2 linked regions of the Homo sapiens genome follow. The protein of the gene in region 1 purifies or fractionates together with the protein of each later gene. This does not show direct contact. Each region holds a gene or a part of one and is shown on either strand. Other genes may lie near its edges. The genes, in order: SIRPG and LTF.

What was found.
Region 2: the proteins of SIRPG (region 1) and LTF purify together in Homo sapiens (affinity purification with mass spectrometry; 2 studies listed by BioGRID and IntAct, with this or other methods). This does not show direct contact.

What each region holds. Positions count from the first base shown.
Region 1 is NC_000020.11:1,628,443-1,633,857, reverse strand, and holds the end of SIRPG (signal-regulatory protein gamma isoform 1 precursor), read left to right. Parts: intron 1-137; exon of another isoform or gene 138-350; intron 351-3,551; coding exon 3,552-3,634; 3' UTR 3,635-3,636; intron 3,637-4,221; 3' UTR 4,222-4,706; downstream 4,707-5,415. UniProt on the Homo sapiens protein: Probable immunoglobulin-like cell surface receptor. On binding with CD47, mediates cell-cell adhesion. Engagement on T-cells by CD47 on antigen-presenting cells results in enhanced antigen-specific T-cell proliferation and costimulates T-cell activation.
Region 2 is NC_000003.12:46,454,686-46,461,972, reverse strand, and holds part of LTF (lactotransferrin isoform 1 preproprotein), read left to right. Parts: intron 1-2,153; coding exon 2,154-2,317; intron 2,318-5,574; coding exon 5,575-5,683; intron 5,684-5,994; coding exon 5,995-6,177; intron 6,178-6,530; coding exon 6,531-6,678; intron 6,679-7,287. UniProt on the Homo sapiens protein: Transferrins are iron binding transport proteins which can bind two Fe(3+) ions in association with the binding of an anion, usually bicarbonate. Lactoferricin binds to the bacterial surface and is crucial for the bactericidal functions.

The sequences.
Region 1 (5,415 bases):
GCATTGTCCCATGGACCTGAAGTTGGCCTGTGTTCCACTCCGTATGACCAAAATATGTCTTACTTCCCTCTTGTGTAATACCAGGAGGAGTCTCAACTCCAGGAGACTTTTCAAAGGCCCAGGTTCCTCCCACATACCTTATGGTGGTTAGTCTTATCTGCTGGGTCAGTGCTAGGTCACGGATTTTTCCATGTCCCTGTCTGCTGGAAGAGTAAATATAGGAAATGGAGGGCAAAAAATATCTTCTATAATCAGAGATGTATGGAAGGCGTGTGATCATGTCCACAGCTAACTCAGTCATGCATGTACACGCAGTTCCAAATGGAATCCATAGTTGGGTGATCTTATGACTAAAGACAGCATAACAAAACCAGTATCATTATTACAGTTAATACAATTTCAAATTTTTAATCACTAAATTTCATAAAATTATTAAAACAATTCCCTTATATCATCTAAAATGGAGTATACATTCAAATTTTCCTCAAATTTCTTTTATGACTATCTTTCTGTGCACTAAATTTGGTTTTAATTCATATTTAAATGCTTTGCAGTATTTTTCTTTGAAACACTTGGGCCTCAAGAATTTTTGGGGGTGTTTTAAAAGTATAAATTCAATTTCCTCAGTAGTTTAGGGTTACTCATATTATTCATTTCATATTGGGTGAGTTCCGGTAACTCGTGCCTTTTGAAGAATTTTGTGTCCATTTTATCTAAGTTGTCATATTTTTGTGTGTAGAGTTGTTCATAATATCTCCTTATTATCTTTTTGGTGTCTGAAGGGTTATGGCGATATCCCCTGTTTCAACCTCATATCTAAAATATGCCATTTCTGTTTTCTTCTTCATCAGCCTTGCTATAGTTTTTTTCCATTTTATTGGTCTTTTCAAAGGACCACTTTGTTTCCGTGAGTTTTTAAATTGTTTTTGTGTTTCCAGTTTATTCATTTTTTGCACTCTTCTTTTTATTAATTCCTGTCTCCTGCTTGCTTTGAGTTTATTTTGCTCTACTTTTTCTAGTTTCTTGAAGTGGTGATTTAATTGACTTGAGGCTTTTGCTCTTTTCTATGTCATTCCTTTGCCTCCGTTTATGGCTGGGGCTGGTGTTGGGGGATGGGTCCCAGGTGCCTGGCTGCAGGGCTGTCCCTCAGTCCTGAGGCCCCTAGTCAGTCTCCCTTCTTCCTCTCCCACCTTGGAATTTCTCCTATTCCTGATCCTTGTGATGTTTCTAGGGTTCATAGTTTTACTTCTCAGGGAGGTAAAACTGCACCATCAAGACTGGATTGCATTTGCTTTTCAGTTATTCATCCACCCACTGGCTTGGACCAGGACCAGGGCTGGCATTTTTGGGTGCTTTCGGTTTGCCAGATGTAGCATCTTTGCTCAGGTACTAAGGCTGGAAATGCATTTTAAGTTGTCTAGGCTGGCAGGTAAAATGCAAGATGCCTTGTGGTTACATAAGTGCTGCACCAGTGGCGTGGGAGCCGGGTAAGAGACTGTGCACTAGGGTTAGGTGAGTGTTCTGTTTTGACTCACGGTCATTTTGCAGTTTGGCTTTCTCTCTTCAAGTAATACTGAGAGCCAGGGTTGTGCAGAACTTACTTTGTTTTCATTTTTTATTTGATTTGGGGAGGATATTTTATACAGATAAGTAGCTATGCTGCTGCAATTGTACCCAGCAACTCTTAAGTCAACCGAAGATCTTTGAGTGCTTTGACCCAAATGTCCACTCCCACATCTCAGGGTCCCACAACTTCCCCATCAGGGCCCTACCCCAGCATAGCAACCGTTGAAGCTGAGATTCATCCTCCTCTGTGATTCTGCTACTCTTTTAATGATGTCCAGGGCCCAACCCTCTATTCTTTCTGCCCTCTAGCCACAAGAGATAAGAAAGTGCAGTGCTGCCAAGAAGTCCTCTTGCTTTCACGCTGAACCTTAACTCATAATCAATCACTCGTAGCTTCTCAGCATATTTCCCCAAAAAAAATATGCCCAGTGATAGCCATGGAACAAGTTAGTCCTTATAACTACCATTTCCCAATTTGTTTCAAAAGCCTGATGCCAAGGAATTTCCTGCCTGTGGTTACGCCATCCCAGCTTACTGCCAGTGAAAGTTTTATCAATTGCATCCCAGCCATGGTGCCCAGCCCCACTCACTGCCAGCCCTGAGGTCCTCATTGCGAGCTGATGAGTATTCAGGCTTCAAATTTATATTTTAGAGTAAGCTTTACAGACAACTTACCAAGGTCAGTTTCTCTGTAAGGCAGACTAGAGATGGATACAGGAATGCAGGAAGCATCCTGAAGAGCTGTAGGGTCAGCATGCCTCAGGAAATGGGGAGGCAGGACTGTAGGAGGAGCGAGGTGCTGAGCTACAGTGCAGGTAGAACAAAGACCCAGCTGCTCCTGCGGAGGATCCCAAGGGCTGAGAGCGTCATGTAGTGTTTTTTAATTGAGGAGAGAAGCGTGGCCTTCCTATTTTCAATTCAGCCAATCTTTCTTGTGGGCTGTCCCCTAGAAGGAGGAGTGAACTTGGAATTGGGCAGTGCAGCTTTCCTCAAGGGAGAAGAAGTCCCAGAGAGCCACCCAGCTGAGAACTGCCGGCCTCCAACACCCCAGCAGCCACAGATGCTGAGTTCTCCATTTCTTCCTTAAGGACCCACCAGCACCATTTTATTTATTTAAAATATACTGTAATATCTTTAATGGCCCAAACTGCTCGCGTTAAAAATGTTGATTTTAAAAGCCTGAACTGCTCATGTTAAAAATGCAGCGTCCAAACATGTGCTTCCCCGTAACTGAGTGTGCCCAACTAACAGAAAGATTTCAGATGACACCTGCACTGGGGTGGAGGTGGCCTAGGTGACATCTGAGGCCCTCCCAAGCATGAGACCCATTTCCGTGACTCACCAGGATGTTTTCTAGCCGGAAGGTTTCATTATGTCCAGTGTTCCATGGCTCCTCCAAGTTCTGAGAACACGGAGTCCTCCCCTTACTTCTGGGGCTAAGCAGGGAACCTGCAACTCTCATTGTGAAGCCATCCTCAAGCCACCTGCCTACCCTTTTATAGTCATTAAAATGTCCCTAGGAATTTGGACTTGTTTTGTTCCAAAGGACATGGTCTCAGGGATCAACCTAAGGAACACTAGTGATGAGCTTCTTTAGGTTTGAATGCAAGTAACCTTGTGACCCTCCCTAAAATCCATGGGCCTCAGTTTCCCTAGCAGAATGGAATGACAATCCCTGCTCCCATAGGCTTGTGAGGGTCAAGTGAGGAACCCCGTTGCCACATGTATGAATACCTGAGTACACACCCCCTCCACCTCTTCCCTCCAGGAGAATAAGCTGGCAACCTGGGACAGGATGAGTGAGAATGGGGAGCCTCTTTCTGTGGCTTCTGCCTTGTGCTGGAGTGAAGATAGCCTGGGCAGGATGCAGGTTCAAAGGTGGGGCATAGATGGGCCCAGGCAGCCTCAGATGGGGTAAGTGGAGGCCCCTACAATGGCCTCCCAAGTGGTCTCTCTCATAGCCCCTCGTCTTCCCTGATTTCCAGGCCCGGCATCATCCCTTACTGCGCTGCTCCTCATAGCTGTCCTCCTGGGCCCCATCTACGTCCCCTGGAAGCAGAAGACCTGACTGTAAGTACAAGGAAGGGAGGACAGACCAAGGGCTGTCTCAGAAGGGCAAGGCCAACAGGAAGGCCCAGCCCACATGCCATGCAGCACCAGGGTCCGTGGAGTTAAGCTCCCTCCGCACCCTCGGAAGTCTTGGGGAACCCTTTAAAAGGCTCCCAACCCACAGAAATTATGTGGGTGGTGTACAATGTGGGATGCTTGAAATGTGTTCAAAGATGTCCACAGTGCCCTAGGAGTTTCATGGAGGCAGTGATGAGTGGGTGGTCCCTTGCAGGCTATCTGTAGATTATTTGAATGCTGGGACTCCATGGGGTCAGAGAAATCCACATTGTAAACTAATGTTGAGAAACCCAAATGGGAAGCCCTGAAGGCTGTTTGTGCTCTGACCCTCTGTGTGTCTGAGTGGAAGGAATATTGGAAAGGGCATCAGGACTTGGCAGGATGGCTGAGCAGGCAGAGTTCTATCAGGACTGCCTGTCCACCAGTGACAGGTATCCCAGGAGACCAGCCCCGAGAACATAACAGACTCTCAGGAAACATGTCTTGAAAGATGAGCAGATGACTAAGTGTGGATGTGTTTTCCTACAGCTCCTTCCTTCCTCCCCTGCCACGTGGGACCCTCATCTCTGCTGCCTCCTTCCTTTCCTGAGAGGCTCAGCTTGAGAGAATGAGCCAGTGAGAAGCTTCTCTAGACTTGGCTCCAAACATCTCCCCTCCCAAGACATCTGCCTGCCCACAGGCTCCTGTTGCTCCTTCACACAGACCTGGATGCCCCAGAGCAAGGTCTTCATTCATGGTCCTGAGCAGGTGCCATGGGATTGGGCTCTGGGCACTGACTTAACGGCACCTCCCTAGAAGGCGAGAAACATGCCAAATCTAAACACACCAGGACTCCCATCCATCGCCTTGAGACTGACCGTAAACCACAGACGCTCTCCAGGTTCTCAAGAGTTATCCTGCCTTCCAGATTCCTGCCTATCCCAACTCCCCAGCCTTGTTGAGGTTCTCTATTGCCTCTTGAATACAAATGCACTCCCAAAGTGGTTTTAAGAAAATAAAAAGATTATCCTTCCTCTTTGTCTAAGGGTCCTACTCCTCACACTCAGAAACAAAGAAGCTCTCCCTGCTCTCTCTGTGATGGGAACACTAGTTCTAGCATCCTGCAGGCTTCCCCGCCCTGCTGCTCATGGCGGAAATGCTGCCGCAGTCCAAAAGCCTCCTTGACTCCCGAATCCTCCCTGATGTCTCTTTACACCCCATATTCAATTCTGCCTTCAAAATACTTATGTCCACTCGTGAGATGGTAAGTGTTTAAAAATGGACTCTCTTAAAGGAAAAAAAAAGCTGATTTGTTGTACTTGACAATTTCTGTGGTATAATCACCCCCAACATGGCCAGTTTCAAGCTACCAGAAGTTTAACAACTGGATTGCAAAATTCCTGAAACTTAACGGTTGGCTTTCAGGGGCCAGTCCAAGCCTGCTGCAGGAGAGCACTGAGTTACATCCCTAACCTGCACACTTCTCACCTCCATCACCCCTCCCTGTCCCGGCCAGCATCATCTCTTCCGGGAACACTTCTGTAGCCTCTGTTGGCTTTCATTTTTCAGCTACAGGGATTTTTGGAAAAGTCAAATTGTATCACTCCTCTGCTTCTTCCCCAACACAGCTGCATGGCTCCCTTCATCCCTCCTTCAAGCCTCTGCTCAATGTCACTTTATTAAAGGCACCTTTGGCAAACCACCCTGTACATAATATCAATTCTCCTGTCTACCCTGGCATTC
Region 2 (7,287 bases), on another chromosome or scaffold:
CCACCCAAGGGCCATGGGTGGCTCTCGCCATAAGGGGATGGCTCAGAAACAGGAGACAGCAGAGGCTGAACATTCTACCCCATAGCACATCCAAAGGGCAGAGGGCTTTTACAACTGTGTGTTTATTTTGTTTTTTTGTTTGTTTGTTTTTTGTTTTAGTTTTTGGTAACAGCTTTACTGAGGTACATTTTCCATATCATAAAAAATCACCTATTTGCGTACAATTCAATGAGTTTCAGTAACCTTACCGAGTGTGCAACTATCACCATAAATCTGTTTTAGAACACTTTTATCCCCCCCAGTAAAGGTCCCTCATGCCTGTTTATAGTTAATCCTCATTTCTACCCCAGCATCAGACAACCACTAATCTATTTTCTTGTCTCCATAAATTTGCCTTTTCTGGACATTTCATTCAAATGGAATCATACAGCATGTGGTCTCTTGTGTCTGGCTTCCTTCACTGAGCATAACTGAGGCTCGTTCATGTTGTGGGGCATGCCAGTAGTTCTTTTCACTGCTGAGTAATATTCCATTGAATGGATGTACATTCACCAGTTATTGGACATTTAGGTTGTTTCCAGTTTTCTACTATTCTAAATAACACTGCTATGAATATTCATGCACAAGCATTTATGTATGATAGGTTCTTATAATATTTCTTCTGGCTATATGCCTAGAAGTGCAATTGTTGGGTCCTATTGGAACTCTGTGCTTCACATTTTGAGAAGCTGCCAACCTGTTTTACAAAGTGGCTGGTCATTTTACATTCTCAGCAATGTATGAGGGTTTCCACTTCTCCACATCCTCATCGATATGTGTCATTGTCTGTTTTAGCTATTATAACCTGTTCAGTGGCTGTGAAATGATATTTCGTTGCATTTTCAATTTGCATTTTTGACTAATGATATTGAGCACTTTTCATGTGCTTATTGTCCATTCATATATCTTCTTTGGTAAAATGTCTGTTCTTATCATTTACCCGTCATGTACTAAATCCTTTTTGATGTTATACTATCTAGCATTATGTTCTTAATTTCATTTTTAGATTGTTCTGTGCTGTATGCAAAAATATGATCAATTTTTGTATATTGATCTTGTATCCTGTGGCCTGGCTGTACTTGTTTATTAATTCTAATAGTACTTTGTAGATTCTTCAGTATTTTCTACATAGAAGATCATGTTATCTGAAAGTAAAGTCAGTTTTACTTCTTTCTTTCCAATATGGGTGTCTCATTTCTTTTCTTGCCTTATTGCTGTGACTAGAATCTCTAGTACTGTTGAATAGAAGAGTTGAGTGTGGACACTCTCTCATCATTCCTGATCTTAGGTGGAAAGCAGTCAGTCTTTCACCATTTTAGTATGATGTTCATTGCAGGTTTTTTGTGGATGCCTTTTATCAGGCAACCAGGTGAGTAAATTCAATGCATCTTCCTCCCTAATTACATGGATTTGAGCAACAAAAGCAGGCTCAAAAGAAGAACCAGTATTTGAGCAAAAAAAGCAGGCTCAACAGGAGCACCAGTCTTTCTGTGCAGAGTGAATGGTGGTAGCTCAGGCACACCAACCAACTGATTTGTCCCCATTGACACTGACTTACCATTTACCTCAGCTACCAACCGACTCAGGTATATTTTCCCCTGTTCTCTTGGCATTCCCTGGGAAGAGATTTATGCACAAAACAATCTAGAGAGACGTGGATTCTCAGCTGGGCTCTGCACTGCTGAGTGGCGAGTCACTCAGCCTCCTTAGGAGCCAATTTCCACATCAGTAAAACAGGAGCAATGACTCCTTTCCTGCCTACCTTCCAGGTTCAAAGTGGGCAAAGCTGGTAGAAGAATTCCATAACTGATCTGGGGGATCACCATCATTTTTTAAGTGGTAGGAAACATGTCAAAGTCATAGGAATGAAAATAATCTAGAGGGACTTTCTCCTTTAATTTATTGAGAACCACAGACCTCTAGCCAATGCAGAGATCCTATTAGTCCAGCAAGATGCCTCCACTTGTGGAGAATGGCTGGACATAGCCATGAAATGGAGAGGGAAGGAGGGCAGCCGAGAGAGAGGGAGGAGTCTGGAAAACTCCATCAGAGGGTGCGGTGGTCACGCCCTCAGTCAGTGGTTGAATCCTTACTCCTTGGCCCCTCTCTCCCAGGACTGTGTCTGGCTGGCCGTAGGAGGAGTGTTCAGTGGTGCGCCGTATCCCAACCCGAGGCCACAAAATGCTTCCAATGGCAAAGGAATATGAGAAAAGTGCGTGGCCCTCCTGTCAGCTGCATAAAGAGAGACTCCCCCATCCAGTGTATCCAGGCCATTGCGGTGAGTCAATGCCGGGTGTTGGTTGGGACCAAGCTGAATGGAAGGGAGAGAGAAATGGAAAAAGATAGAACACGAGCTCTCCTTACTTCCTCTGCTTCACCTGTTGGGCAACGAAGTGGGGAGCCGTCCTCTCTCACAGGGAACTGTGCTATTTTCAGAGCAGAAAGGAAGGAGCTTAAGTCAAGAGACCATGTGTGAGGAACCTGGAGCCTCCACATAAACTATAATAACAACTGTTATTCATTAATAACAACTGTTCCAAAATGAAATGTAATCAGTTGTATTTGATGAATACATAGGATCAGCAAAAAGCAAAGTTACTCAGAGAGGGAAATCCTCCAAAAGAGTCATGACCTCTAAACCCTGTGAGAAAGAAGCTTGTCCTGGTCACCGTTGCCACATCACATGGCTGGGGCAGGGCCTGCCAGGGTGCTGGGTGTTAGAAAGACTTTTGTCCAAGACACTTTCAGAGAGAGAGAAAAGGGTATCATGACTTGTATATGATTTCTGATTCCTTTTATTTTTTGAGATGTAAGATCTACTGAAATGATTTTTACTCATTCATTCAACAAATATATTCTGTGTACCTGCCATGTGCCATAATCATGTGTACTCAACTCCAGCAGAGTGAATAATTTGCATAAAAGTTCCCGAGGCAACTTCATAGGATTATCTTATAAATACAATGGAGTTATTAGAATAGCACTTAGGGAAAAATCTAGTTTAATCAATGTTTTAGGCTATTATTTTACAACTATTACCTGCATACAAACAGTACCAGTGGCTGGGCGCGGTGGCTCACGCCCGTAATTTCAGCACTTTGGAGGCCGAGGTGGGAGGATCACCTGAGGTCAGTAGTTCAAAACCAGGATGGCCAACATGGTGAAACCCTGCCTCTACTAAAAATACAAAAATTAGCTGGGTGTGGTGGCACATGCCTGTATTCCCAGCTACTTACAAGGCTGAGGCAGGAGAATCACTTGAACCCGGGAGGGGGAGGTTGCAGTGAGCCAAGATCATGCTATTGCACTCCAGCCTGGGCGACAAGAGCGAGACTCCATCTCAAAAAACAAAAAACAAAAACAAAAAACCAGCACCAGCATCTCTTGCTTGTTTAAAATGCAGATTCCTAGGCTCTATTCTAACCTACTCAATCTGAATATATGTGAAAGAAGCCACAAAATCTGCCTTTTAAAATAAGATCCTGTCCAAGGCCATACCACGCTGAACGCGTCTGATCTCGTCTGATCTCGGAAAATAAGATCCCTGTTTGAAATCAGTACTACATACCATTCATTCAAATAAAGTTGAGATAGATTAAATGGTTAAAAATAAAACTTGTATTATTGAAAAACTAGGGGGCAGGTTAACTAGCAGAACTGTAGAGGAAATAGAAATCTCTTAAATGATGATCTAAATCACGAAACAAACAGATATTCTAAAATACAGAAAATGTAATTCATAGCCCATAGAAAATATTTAAATAAAAAAATTAGAAAGGACTGGAATGAATGAATATGCGCCAGCTCTGACACATGATTACTATTTACACTCTATAAAAGAATAACTCAAGGCCGGGCGTGGTGGCTCACATCTGTAATCCCAGCACTTTGGGAGGTCAAGGCAGGTGGATCACGAGGTCAGGAGATCAAGACCATCCTGGCTAAGATGGTGAAACCCCATCTCTACTAAACATACAAAAAAAAAAAAATTAGCCAGGCATGGTGGCACACGCCTGTAGTCCCAGCTACTCAGGAGGCTGAGGCAAGAGAATCGCTTTAACCCGGGAGGTGGAGGTTGCAGTGAGCTGAGATGGTACCACTGCACTCCAGCCTGGGTGACTCCGCTCGAAAAAATAAATAAATAAAAGAATAACCCAAATTGGAAAAAATGTAGAATCATAGAAGAAAAATGATATGAACAGAGTTACCAGTAAGAGGGAATTCATAATTAATAAAAAATACTTGTGAGATGTTCCCCTTACTAATCAGACCTGAGCGATTTGTTAGTACTCACATTTTCTATAGTAATAACAGCTAATAGAATGATAGCCTGCCCTGCTGGTGATTCAAGAGTGAAGCTGGTCCTCACGGTCAGCGCCATTCTGAATTGGTATTATAAGTCTTCTGGAAGCAGAATGGCAACGGCAGCCCGGGTCACAGGGGGAAACGTGCTCCTCATCTGGGGGATTCCACCCTCAGCTGCCTACCCAAGGACACAAGTGGTCACAAGGAAAAACACTGAGGACAAAGATATTCATGAAAATACAGTCTTCACAGGAAACAGTTAGAAATAAACTTAAATGCTAAACATTGGGGGAAATTATTCAATACACGATAGAACACCCACATTATGAGAAAACATTATGCTGTCTACAAAATCAGTAAAGGCTCTGCAGAAGTTAGAAAATGTATCCAGTTTTAGAGGAATAAGCAGTCCACAAAATATGATGTATCCCAGGGGTCCCCACCACCTGGCCACGGACTGGTACCGGTTGATGGCCTGTTAGGAACTAGACCTCAGACCAGGAGGTGAGCAGAGGGCCAGTGAGCATGACTGCCTGAGCTCCACCTCCTGTCAGATCAGCGGCGGCATTAGATTCTCATAGGAGTGTGAACCCTAGTGTGAACTGTGCATGCGAGGGATCTAGGTTGCACTCCCTATGAGAATCCAATGCCTGATGATCAGAGGTGGAACGGTTTCATCCCAAAACCATTCCCCATCTGTCTGTGGAAAAATTACATTCCCTGAAACTGGTCCTTGGTGGCAAAAAAGTTGGGGACCACTAAACTATCCCACATTGCAAACCAAAGAAATATGTAATCATGTGGGAAGCAATGTGCTGAAGCGGAGGAACATGGTTTCTTATGAAAATTTTAGGATAGCTTAATAACTATATTTTCTATCCAATAAAACAGAACTTAAAAGAAATGAATATAGAGCAAAAATAGAAAGTATCTAGAACAAACGACTTCAAATATAGATGACTGTGAGGGGTGTGATCGGGAGAGTGACACAGGCAGGCAGAGGAGAAAGAGGGCAGGCGCCAGTCTCAGGACTTAGAGGGCTGGTGCTCACTGTCCCAAAACAGGGGTCCTTGGCTCTCACCATCTCTCATAGGAAGTGAGGGGACAGGATGGAAAGCGGACCCCTTTGACGACCCTTCCAGCCATGGAGACTTTTTGAGGTCCTGAAGTCCCACTTGCTGGGTTTGGGTGAGTTTTCTGCTGAAGCCAGTCTGGCCTCTTTACTTTCAGGAAAACAGGGCCGATGCTGTGACCCTTGATGGTGGTTTCATATACGAGGCAGGCCTGGCCCCCTACAAACTGCGACCTGTAGCGGCGGAAGTCTACGGGACCGAAAGACGTGAGTTCTGCCTGGGGACCCAGAGGCCACGGTGGCCTCAGCCTGTGCCCTGAGCTGTGTGGATTAAGACTGGGGGAACATGTGGAGGTGGAGTCTGGGTCACATCACACATGTAGGGAATGGAGTCGCTGGGCTCTGGGCCAGATGAAGGCCGTTCCTCCTGACGCTGACCCACGAGAGGAGGACACACGTGAGCTGTGAGGAAACTGCAGCACAGCATTCCCCCTTCCCACCGGAGACTTTTCAGGATGGGTTGTTTTTGTCCCTCTTGTCCAGGCTAAGAACTTTCAATTCTGTCTGCCCCTTTGCAGAGCCACGAACTCACTATTATGCCGTGGCTGTGGTGAAGAAGGGCGGCAGCTTTCAGCTGAACGAACTGCAAGGTCTGAAGTCCTGCCACACAGGCCTTCGCAGGACCGCTGGATGGAATGTCCCTATAGGGACACTTCGTCCATTCTTGAATTGGACGGGTCCACCTGAGCCCATTGAGGCAGGTAAGATGGCTGGGGGATAGTGAGTGGCCTCAGGCAGGGGGCTCTATTCCAGTTGTAAGCACAGGCCACACAGATCATGCAGGTGAAAGTGTGGGATGAATCAAGGTGGGGGTGAGGCTGGCCAGCTTGTAACATCCTGCTGGCAGGATCCGTTACCCTAGCAGCCCTTGGGAGGCACAGCTGAGTCTGCTCTCGGCAGAGGTGCATGTCTCGAGCTCCCAGCCCCATGACAGAGTCTCTCCTGCAGGGGTGGAGGAAGGGGCCTTGCCCACGGAGACCTCAGGATGGGAGGTGTAACCTGCTGTGACCAGGGCTGGCTCACACTCTGTGGTCCACTTCTCTGTGTTTAACAGCTGTGGCCAGGTTCTTCTCAGCCAGCTGTGTTCCCGGTGCAGATAAAGGACAGTTCCCCAACCTGTGTCGCCTGTGTGCGGGGACAGGGGAAAACAAATGTGCCTTCTCCTCCCAGGAACCGTACTTCAGCTACTCTGGTGCCTTCAAGTGAGTGACCCTGTCCCCTTCTCGTCAGTGGCCAAGTGTCCCTTGGCCTCAGGCCGGGAGGCCTTTTCTCTGGCCCCACATAGAGCCCAGCCTGCTCTTGGGGACGAGAGGAGGTCTGTTCTCCTACTGCTGTGTGTCCAAAGAGAGTGCAGGCCTGCCCAGTGTGTGTTCCCCTCCAGCCTTCCGGGCCCAACTGTGCCCCCAACTTCTCACCAGCCCCACGGGCAGTCACTGTGGCTGTGGGCCCTCCTGTTACCTCAGAGAGCCCTGAATCCAACTTGGCTGCCCTGTTGTCCTGGGTTCCTCATACTAATTTCTGCCGCCTGCCTAACCACAGCAGGACTGAAGGCATCTTGTCATGAGATGTCCAGTCCTGGCTCCTGGTTGGGCAGGACCGCTGCAGTGTCCAGGCTGATGTCCTTCTGCCCACCTGGGCCTCTCCCCGTGGCTGAAGGACAGTGAGCAATGCCTGATTCGCCCCCATCCTCTCTGCCCCCACGCGGAGGCTGAGCTCCCCCTTTTCCCATTCTGTCTGCTGGCACTAGCGTATTTTTGCAGAGGGAGGCCTCCACACTTCCCCACTGGCCAGGGCACACCTGCACACTCAGT